Linked DNA regions of Homo sapiens. The protein of the gene in region 3 purifies or fractionates together with the protein of the main gene of each other region. This does not show direct contact. Each region holds a gene or a part of one and is shown on either strand. Other genes may lie near its edges. The genes, in order: MARCHF5, AMBRA1 and TOMM70.

Region 1 (3,653 bases), on a different chromosome or scaffold from region 3:
ATTATTATCACAGATGCAGGCTCTTAAGTATTTTGTTTAATGGCTGCATGAAGCCACTAGCGTACAGAGTACGAATCAACTCTTAGTATATACGAATGTAACATGTTAATCAAGAAATACAAGCAACTTTTTAAAAGTTTTAGAAGAAGATATTTTCTTTTAACCAACAATTATTTTTGAAACTTGAATTGAAAAGTTGTGCTGGAATCAGCATAGCTAGAGCACTAGCTTTGTGTGCAGCAATGAAGAGCCCACCACCTGAAAGCCAATTCACACATGGCTTCATTTACAGACAACAGCTGGCTTGAGTCATTGTTAATAACTGCATGGAAAATTGTGAATATAATTAAAATTGCAGCCCTTGAATAGGTATCTTCAGCATGTTAAGAATGCAGCGGCAGGCTGGGCACACAGTGGCTCATGCCTGTGATCCTAGCACTTTGGGAGGCCAAGGTAGGTGGATTGCTTGAGCCCAGGAGTTTGAGACAAGCCTGGACAACATAGCAAGACCCAACCTCTATTGGCGGGGGGGGGCGGGGGGAAGCAGCAGCAGCAAATACTCTGTTTTTCTGTTTTGTCAAGAGGAAATATGCTAACAATACCTACTCAAATGAAGGATATACTTTTTTTTTTCTTTTTTTGAGACAGAGTCTTGCTCTGTCGCCCAGGCTGGAGTGCAATGGTGTGAGCTTGGCTCACAGCAACCTCTGCCTCCCAGGTTCACGTGATTGTCCTACCTCAGCCTCCCAAGTAGCTGGGATTACAGGCGCCTGCCACCACGCCTGGCTAATTTTTGTATTTTTAGTAGACACAAGGTTTCACCATGTTGGCCAAGCTGGTCTTGAACTCCTGATATCAGGTGATCCGCCTGCCTTGGCCTCCCAGTGTTGGGATTACAGGCGTGAGCCACCGTGCCCAGCGGATATTCATTTTTTTTTATAACACTGATGTCATTAAAACATATCTATGATTTTAAGCGGCTAACTCAAGTGCCATACCTCTATGACAGACAGTATAGTGACCAGCTTGAACATATCATTTGAGAGTAAAATTATAATTCTCTCTTTTATTTAAGATTGGTTTCACTCTGTCACCCAGGCTAGAGGGTAGTGGCGCAATCATAGCTCAATGCAGCCCCAAACTCCTGGGCTCAAGTGATCCTCCCAGCTGAGCCTCCCGAGTAGCTAGGACTTACAACAGGTGTGCTCCATCACACTTGGCTAATTTTTTTTCTTTTTCTTTTTCTTTTTTGTAGAGAGACAAGGTTTTGCTATGTTGCCTAGGCTGATCCTGACCTCGTAACCACAAGCAATCCACCCACCTGAGCCTCAAAAGTGCTGGGATTACAGATGTGAGCTACCATGACTGGCCACAATTCTTTTTTGTTGTTCAGACAGGGTCTCACTCTGTCTCCCAAGCTGGAGTACAGTGGCGCAATCACAGCTCACTGTGGCCTCCACCTCACAGGCTAAGGCAATCCTCCCACCTCAGCCTCCTGAGTAGCTGGGACTACAGGTGTGTGCCACCATGCCCAGCTAATTTTTTTTTGTTATTTTTGGTAGAGATGGAGTTTCACCCTGTTGCCCAGGCTGGTCTCAAGCAATCTACTCGCCCCAGCTTCCCAAAGTGTTGGGATTACAGGTGTGAGCCACTGTGACCCGCCACAATTTTTTTTTTTAGCACGGCGTCTCGCTCTATCTCCCAGGCTGGAGTGCTGTGGCGCTATCTTGGCTCACTGCAAGCTCTGCCTCCCGGGTTTACGCCATTCTCCTGCCTCAGCCTCCCGAGTAGCTGGAACTAGAGGCACCTGCCACCAAGGCTGGCTAATTTTTTTGTATTTTTAGTAGAGATGGGGTTTCACTGTGTTAGCCAGGATGGTCTCGATCTCCTGACCTCGTGATCTGCCAGCCTTGGCCTCCCAAAGTGCTGGGATTACAGGTGTGAGCCACCGCGCCCGGCCCGGCCACAATTCTTAGTAACAAAATATGCAGACTAAATAATGATACAAATGGCTTAACCAAAGAGTTTTACTCTTTTCTTTTTTCTTTGAGATGGAGTCTCGGCTCTGTCGCCCAGGCTTGTGTGCAGTGGCACGATCTTGGCTCACTGCAACCTTTGCCTCCTGGGTTCAAGCAACTCTTCTGCCTCAGCCTCCTGAGTAGCTGGGACTACAGGCACACGCCACCATGTCCAGCTAACTTTTGTATTTTTAGTAAAGACATAGTTTCACCATATTGGCCGGGTTGGTCTCGAACTCCTGACCTCGTGATCTGCCCGCCTCTGCCTCCCAAAGTGCTGGGATTACAGGCGTGAGCCGCCACGCCCAGCCAAGATTTACTCTTTTCTAACAACTAGGTAGACTTAAAACCATATTCAATTACTGCACTAAACCTGAAAACATATTTCCTAGAACTGAATTCAACCAAAAGGACAGATCTACACATTGCCATCTCCAAAATTAAAATACTCAACTTTGCTTTCGAGTGCCATACACTTGTCAACTTGATGTAGTTTTCAGTGAGAATTCTTGTAATAATTTTTGTGTCCATTTGAATATCTAAAACATCTAATAGAAATATTTAATTGTTGCTCTTCCCAACTCTATAATTCAAAGGTGGGGCTATCTAATTTAGTACAACTAAGAGCAAGAAAAGAAATCAGTTAAATATGAAACCTTAACTTGGACTTTAGTGAGTCTTTCACCATTCATGTGGTGGTACAATAATGTGAACAATCATTGCTTTTCCTGATACTGATTTAAAAATACTTCTTTGATCTTACAATAAAAACATTTTGAATTATTCTTTTGTGTTTATCTAAAATCAGTGGTATGCACTGAAGACCCATCACATGGTCCACAAATTCCAAATGTTTGAAAACACTACTTTCTCTACTACACTACTTCCCCTTCAAAGGAAGCTATCATTTCTTCCTGTGCATGTTAGAGAAAAACAGAGAACCAAGGACATTTTGTTTGCCCTTATTATTAATCTTCTCATATTAGAAAAGCACTTCATTATCTGCATTTATGTTGCCACATTTTCAAAAACATTGGTCTGATTTCAGTATGAATAGCACTTATAAAAAACAATATATATAATAATTATTTCCAATTTTTCCTGAATTCCCTCTGCCCCCAAAGACATTCTTTCCTTATGACCTTCCCAGAACCCAAGCTGCCTTCCTATACCTCTTGGTTACAGTCAAGGGTTATAAAAAAATGTTTAACAACTGGCATGGTATAAACACCAAACCAAGAGATTGACACCAATTTATAACTGTATGGCTGTAATGGAACAGGCTCACTAAATATCAGCCTTAGTTATACTGCTGCTAAAGAAGCAGCCTTAGAATGCTTCTTGTAAGCAGTCTGCTATACTTTTTTTCCATGCTAGGCCTGTTCTCAAAGATCTTTGGTTATTTCTTACCTGCCACTTCACAGAAAAGGGATAGCAGGGTTCATGAAAGAAACCACATAAATTGGATTCCAAAGATGAGTTTAACGTCACATCTTATTAAATATTTAATTTCTCTACTTTTATTCCTTAAAAGGAAGAATTAAGGAGAAGTATTAGAACATACTACTGCTTTCTTTCTCTTACACCGTCTCCAGATAATTAAGCTAAGTTAGTTTTTTTTTTAAAAGTCAGCTT
Region 2 (3,208 bases), on a different chromosome or scaffold from region 3:
GCAACCTCCGCCTCCCGGGTTCAAGCAATTATCCTGCCTCAGCCTCCCAAGTAGCTGGGATTACAGGCATGCACCATCATACCTGGCTCATTTTTGTATTTTTAGTAGAGATGGTGTTTCCCCATGTTGGCCAGGCTGGTTTCGAGCTCCTGACCTCAGGTGATCCACCCTCCTCGGCCTCCCAAAGTGCTAGGATTACAGGCGTGAGCCACCACGCCTGGCCATATTTATTTATTTTTTTGAAATGGAGTTTTGTTCTAGTCGCCCAGGCTGGAGTGCAATGATGCGATCTCAGCTCACTGCAACCTCCACTTCCTGGGTTCAAGCCATTCTTCCGCCTCAGCCTCCGAGTAGCTGGGATTACAGGTGCCCGCCACCACACCCAGCTAATTTTTGTATTTTTAGTAGAGACGGGGTTTCACCATGTTAGCCAGGCCAGTCTCGAACTCCTGACCTCAGGTAATCTGCCTGCCTCAGCCTCCCAAAAGGCTGGGATTATAGGCATGAGCCACCGTGCCCAGCCTTTGTTTTTTGAGATGGAGTTTTGCTCTTGTCACTCAGGCTGAAGTGCAGTGGCACAATCTTGGCTCACTGCAACCTCCACCTCCCAGGTTCAAGCGATTCTCCTGCCTCAGCCTCCTGAGTAGCTGGGATTACAGGCTCCCACCACACCTGGCTAATTTTTTGTATTTTTAGTAGAGATGGGGTTCCACCATGTTGGCCAGGCTGCTCTCGACCTCCTGACTTCAGGCGATCCGCCCACCTAGGCCTCCCAAAGTGTTGGGATTACAGGCGTGAGCCACCGTGCCTGGTCAGAAGCTGAGAGTTTTAACTGTTCCTTGGAAGGGCTGTTTCCTTCTCTTCTTTCCCTTTACCCCCCAGTCTTCACAAGCTATTCCCCAGTTATTGTTCTCCTGGGGCTCAATGCCTGATGCCATATTTCCCGGAAAAGAGTCAACTGACCAGCACAGGACCCAGGTCTAGGGAGGGAGAGAAGGATCTGTCCGCCACTCCCTCTGCAGAAATGCCTGAGCATTCCCTTGTGTGGGAACAGAAAAGACTTCGGCTCAAATCTCAGCTGTCACTTGCTTGCTGGGTGACCTTGAAAAAAATCCCTAACATCTACCTTGCACGGTGCTGGAGAGAGAAAAGGAGCTAACGCACAGCCCAGGCACTTGGTCAACGGTGCCTGTTGTGATTAACTTGGGGTCTGCAGCAGTGGAGCTCTATTGCTGTGGGACCTCCCTTCCAGCTTTCTGCTCAGCTCTTGGTAGGGTGAGAACCAGGCCAAGACCGTGGGCAACTATGATCAAGGCTCTGAGGCTGCGAGGGATGGCTCCACTGAACTGCTGATTTGTCTCCATCAGCTACTGTTTGGAATTTTGCAGTTTTGGGGGTTTTGATGGTGAGTTTTCTTTCCTTTTGGGGTACTTGCCAGCAGCTATTTTTATGAGACTTTCTTTGCTCCCCTAACCCCATCCATCCCCTTCTCTCTGCCTGCCTCATTAGAGTTGGATTTCCAGGCCAGCCAGTTTCACAGCTTGGTGGCATCTAAGGCCCCAAGAGATCTCTCACCCTTCTTGTTGGTACTTGGCAGCCTCATGCTTCTAGTTCTTTCTATAGTTTTTTTTTTTTTTTTTTTTTTTTTTTTTTTTTTTTGAGACCAGGTCTCGCTATGTCACCTAAACTGGAGTGCAATGGTACAAACATGGCTCACTGTAGCTTAGCCTCTTGGGTGCAAGTGATCCACCCACCTCAGCCTCCTGAGTAGTAGGGAGTACAGGCAAGCACCACTCCTGGCTAATTTTTTGTACTTTTTGCAGAGACGGTTTCGCCGTGTTGCCCAGGCTGGTCTTGAACTCCTGGGCTCAAGCAATCCTCCTGCCTTGGCCTCCCAAAATGCTGGGATTACATGGGTGAGTCACTGCGCCCAGCCCCAGTCTTAGACGATCTTCCTCAGCATTATGTCCTCTCTTGCTTTTCTGGACAACCCCTGATAAAGCACTGCCCTCCATCCCTCAAGGTGGCTGCCCTTCCCCACTTCCTCCTGGGACACCCGGCTCCAGCTCCCAGGGCAGAAGGAGAGAAAACCTGAAGGGCTCTCAGAGTACTGGGTCAACCCCATCTTCAGGTTTTAAAGCCTTCTAACAGTGGGGCAGAAGGTAAGAAGAAAAAAGTCAACCTACGGCCTTGGTGCCCACAGAGATTCTACCCTGGGAGCCAAGGGCTGCCTGGGGAGGTCCCCTGGGGCCCTCCCTGTGCTCACTGTAGCCCCAATGCTTTCTCAGAACTCTGTGCACTGAAGCCCTCGCAGCATGGTCTGGGGCGTGCTGTGGCTGGCCTGAGGCCTGCTGGCATTGGAGTGCACTGTGCCAGGCGCTGTGCCTAGTGAATTCTCAGCTCTTTTCGAGACAGAGTCTCGCTCTGTCGCCCAGACTGGAGTGCAGTGACATGATCTCAGCTCACTGCAACCTCCACTTCCCGGGTTCATGCAATTCTCCTGCCTCAGCCTCCCGAGTAGCTGGGACTACAGGCATGTGCCACCATACCCAGCTAATTTTTGTATTTTTAGTAGAGACAGTGTTTCATCATGCTGGCCAGGCTGGTATCAGACTCCTGACCTTGTGATCCACCCACTTGGACCTCCCAAAGTTCTGGGAGGCATGAGCCACCGCACCCAGCTCAGCTCTTCTCAAGTAGATTACCAGGGGCAGAACAGGCTGCCTTGGGGCCCTATGGGTGCTGCTGCAGCCAAGCCCCCAGAGAGCCCCGGATGGGCTTTCCCAGGCTCTGCGGGAGGCCCTGCTGCTGGCACTCAAGTCTGAGCCCACTGCTTGCTTGCCTATGGCTCCAGGCCTGGCCACCCCTCTCTATGGCTATGACTGTGTCCTAACTGGGCTTCTTGCTTCCAGTCTCCTCCCCTTCCGTCTAGTCTCCACACTGTTCCTATTACCATCCTAATTCAGCTCTGCTGACTTGAGCTCTGGTTAAGTCTGCACCCTGTTCAAAACCCAGCAGCTGCAAAAGCCCTCACAGTAGTCAAAACTCCTTAGCTTGACATTTGAGGGCTCTCTGGCCAGACCCTTATCATGCTGCAGACCTTCCTGCCCTGTCCCCCACATTCCTGCAGGTACCCGGCAGCCCTGCTCCCTGCCTGCACAGATGGGCATACACTGTGCACACTGTGCCATGCTCTCGTCCCATCTCC
Region 3 (3,653 bases):
ATTTAATCCCCCATTATAATATATGGCAACGTGATAGGCTTATTTTTAAAAAAAACTTTTTTCAAGAGTTCATGTTCTGGCATTAGGCCAACAGCTAGCAGATCTGCAAAATCCTAGGATAATCTGCAATTTCATTTATTCAAATTCACTTATTTAATTGTAAGGTTCAGAATGGATTTTTTCAAAGTTCAATTAACGTGAACAAAATTCCATCAAACCCTATCAGAGGTCTTTAGTTAACCCAGGATCTATGAAAGCCTTGAATTAAAAGCAAAGTGTTTTTGTGTGCATTATTCTAAGAAGAATCCACAGCTTCGCTCAAAAAAGATTAAGAACTACCACCCTATCCTATTCTAGTACAAGAATATTTTATTCACATTAACAAATTAGCAATTAAGAAATAATTTAGGCTGGGTGCAGTGGCTCACACCTGTAATCCCAGCACTTCAGGAGGCTGAGATGGGCAAATCACTTGAGGCCGAGAGTTTGAGACCATCCTGGCCAACATGGCAAAAGCCCATCTCTGCTACAAATACAAAAAGTTAGCTGGGCATGGTGGTGCATGCCTGTAGTCCCAGCTACTTGGGTGGCTGAGGTACAAGAATCACTTGAACCTGGGAGGCAGAGGTTGCAGAGTCAAGATTGTGCCACTGTACTCCAGCCTGGGCTGGAGACTCTGTCTCATAAAAAGAAGAAAAAAAAACTTAATATTTACATGCCACTGTGGGTACAGAATGGTTAAAAGAAACACAATTTTTTTTTTACCAGCCTATATATATTCTGCCTACTGTAGAGCAGGGAGAGGACTACAGGAGGGGCTGAATGATAGGGAATTAAGAAAACTCATGCTGCTTCCTGACAAGTGATAATGCCAAGATCAGTGACTGTGGTATCAGTGATATATGAGCTCAAACCCTGTCTTCTCTATTGGCTTACTGTGCAACCTTGTAAACCTAAGCCCTCTGGGCATCAGTTAAATTAGGGATCATATAATCTCCACCTTTATAAAGATGGGGATGAAGATTAATTGAAATAGTACTTAGGAAACATCTAAAGTTTAATACTTGGCCTAAAGTAGGAAACTCAAATGAATGGCAATACCAGTATTAAGATGGTATACAATAAATCCCATATATAAAACAGCTGTCACCTTTTAATGGTGGATCTTAAGAGCAACTCTGGATAAACACTTACACAAAATAAGAGGTTAAGGACAGAGCTGCAAAAAATGTTCTTATCCAACTCTGATTTTAAAGAAAATTCAGGGGCTCTGAGTTGATGTTGCAACTTGCCCAGCCATTTGGCTGGATGCTTCTTTGGAGGAGGGTCCAGATTTTCTGGCAACTTGGCTACCAATCCTTATGTCACTGCCTTAGCACATTTTTTTTTCCAACGTGAATAATACAGGTGAAAAGAGGAAAGAACATAACAGACTTTAACATGTACGTAATAAGAACAAAAAGCTAAATATCTATGGAGCTACCATATATTTCCTAACAGACTCCAGAAGTTACCTTTGTACTTCAATAGTTCCCATGGTTTCATAGGCAAAATCACATTTATTGTCAATTTCAATAGCCTTGCTGATAAGTTCCAAACCTCTATCCAGATCTTGCTTCCACTGAAGTTGAAGTAAACTGCAAATGCAAAAAAATGTCAGATGTGACCATGGCCCAGTATCAGTAGGAATACACACACATTAATATGACTCAATTTCTGCCTTCAATGAACTTATAAGTTAACTTATAACTTATAAGGCAATATATAATCAGCATCAAATTGTGTTTTTTTTCTCAGCTTATATTGGTTTGCTAGTCTAAGTTCCTTATTACAAAAAGTGTTCAATGGTCTAGGCTCTATTACCAATCTTGCATCCCTTATTTTTCACTTTATATAAATTTAAGTGAAGTTTCTTAGGATAATTCAAGTACGCAAGGACACGAACACTTGTGTATGCTTCGTATTTGGATATAAGCCAACAGCTGACAGGATGTTCAGTTTGAAATTAAAACCCTTAACACAGAGCAAGAATAGTACATTAATTTCTTTCTTTTTGTTTTTTTTGGGACAGAGCCTCACTCTGCCGCCCAGGCTGGAGAGCAGTGGTGCAATCTTGGCTCACTGCAACCTCTGCCTCCCAGGTTCAAGTGATTCTCACTCCTTAGCCTGCTGAGTAGCTGGGAATCGGGCATGTGCCACCACACCTGGCTAATTTTTTGTAGTTTTAGTAGACACCGGGTTTCACCATGTTGGTCAGGAGGGTTTCGAACTCCCAACCTCAGATGATCTGCCTGCCTCGGCCTCCCAAAGTACTAGGATTACGTGTAAGCCACTGCGCCTGGCCTCCTTAACTAATTTCTGTAAGAATGAAAAGACATCTAGGAGCATTAAGAAGTTTGTCAATTAACTTCTCTACCACAGTCCCCTTCCTCAGTGGCCAAAATAAATACATTTTATTACTATGCAAGAAATTTATTATCTCATTGGAACAATCACAAAAATACATACCCTTTATGAACATATGTTGTAGCATTATCTGGTTCCAAATCAATACATTTATCATACATTTCATCAGCTTTACCAAACTGTTGTTGATCTGTTAATGCCTATGTGAGGAGATACTTCAGTTATATTAAGGTAACCGTCAACCTAAGCAGTTAAAAGTATACTTATTATTCATTATAAAAATTTACTTCATTCATTATTACAAAATTATCACGTTTTGGGGATACAGACTGATTTACATTTTACATCTTAATTATCGGAGTTTTTAGGTGGCACTGCTATAAATATGAAATCTTAACTATCCTCTTTCTTCAGCAAGTGGTTAGTTATATGCCACAGCAGATAATCTCTGGTAAACTGTTCAATACAGATAATCCCATTCTTAGTCACAGCTCTAATATCACATTCTCATAGGTACAGTCACATCACTTATTCATAATTTATCATAATACAGCCCAAGGGAATTTTTTTTTTTTTTTTTTTGAGATAGAGTTTCATTCTTGTCACCCAGGCTGGGGTGTAGTGGCGCAATCTCTGTTTTCTGCAACCTCCGCCTCTTGGGTTCAAGTGATCCCCCTGCCTCAGCCTCCTGAGTAGCTGGGACTACAGGCGCCCAACACCTTGCCTGGCTAATTTTTGTATTTTTAGTAGAGATGGGGTTTCACCATGTTGGCCAGGTTGGTCTCGAACTCCTGACCTCAGGTGATCCACCCACCTCGGCCTCCCAAAGTTCTAGGATTACAGGAGTGAGCCACCGCACCTGGCCAGGGAATTATCTTAAGGGCAATATTCATTTGGAAGTATAAGTTAAGATGTATGTGTTAAATGTCTTCAGAGCTATTTGTTTAAAATTATTGATTTTTTAAAAAGCAGCTATAACTGCTTCAACTAATATATCTCCAAAAATAATTCCCTAATATTATCTATAATACCTAGCCCATATTCAGTTAACCCCGGTTATTTATAAGATGACTTTTAAGAAGTATGTGAGTCATTATATTTAGCTGTATGGCTCTTAGTCTTTTCATATCTAAAATAAGCCAACTTAAATATTTTAAAAATCGCTCTTAAAAATATCAAAGAAATGTAGCCAGCACATCTTCTTTATAATAAAAATCAGAAAGATATAGAAAGTAGAAATATTTTTA

What was found.
Region 1: the proteins of TOMM70 (region 3) and MARCHF5 purify together in Homo sapiens (affinity purification with western blotting; 2 studies listed by BioGRID, with this or other methods). This does not show direct contact.
Region 2: the proteins of TOMM70 (region 3) and AMBRA1 purify together in Homo sapiens (affinity purification with western blotting, with the first as the bait; one study listed by BioGRID). This does not show direct contact.

What each region holds. Positions count from the first base shown.
Region 1 is NC_000010.11:92,311,630-92,315,282, reverse strand, and holds part of MARCHF5 (E3 ubiquitin-protein ligase MARCHF5), read right to left. Parts: intron 1-3,653. UniProt on the Homo sapiens protein: Mitochondrial E3 ubiquitin-protein ligase that plays a crucial role in the control of mitochondrial morphology by acting as a positive regulator of mitochondrial fission and as an important regulator of immune response.
Region 2 is NC_000011.10:46,398,851-46,402,058, forward strand, and holds part of AMBRA1 (activating molecule in BECN1-regulated autophagy protein 1), read right to left. Parts: intron 1-3,208. UniProt on the Homo sapiens protein: Substrate-recognition component of a DCX (DDB1-CUL4-X-box) E3 ubiquitin-protein ligase complex involved in cell cycle control and autophagy.
Region 3 is NC_000003.12:100,366,530-100,370,182, forward strand, and holds part of TOMM70 (mitochondrial import receptor subunit TOM70), read right to left. Parts: intron 2,607-3,653; coding exon 2,509-2,606; intron 1,638-2,508; coding exon 1,515-1,637; intron 1-1,514. UniProt on the Homo sapiens protein: Acts as a receptor of the preprotein translocase complex of the outer mitochondrial membrane (TOM complex). Recognizes and mediates the translocation of mitochondrial preproteins from the cytosol into the mitochondria in a chaperone dependent manner.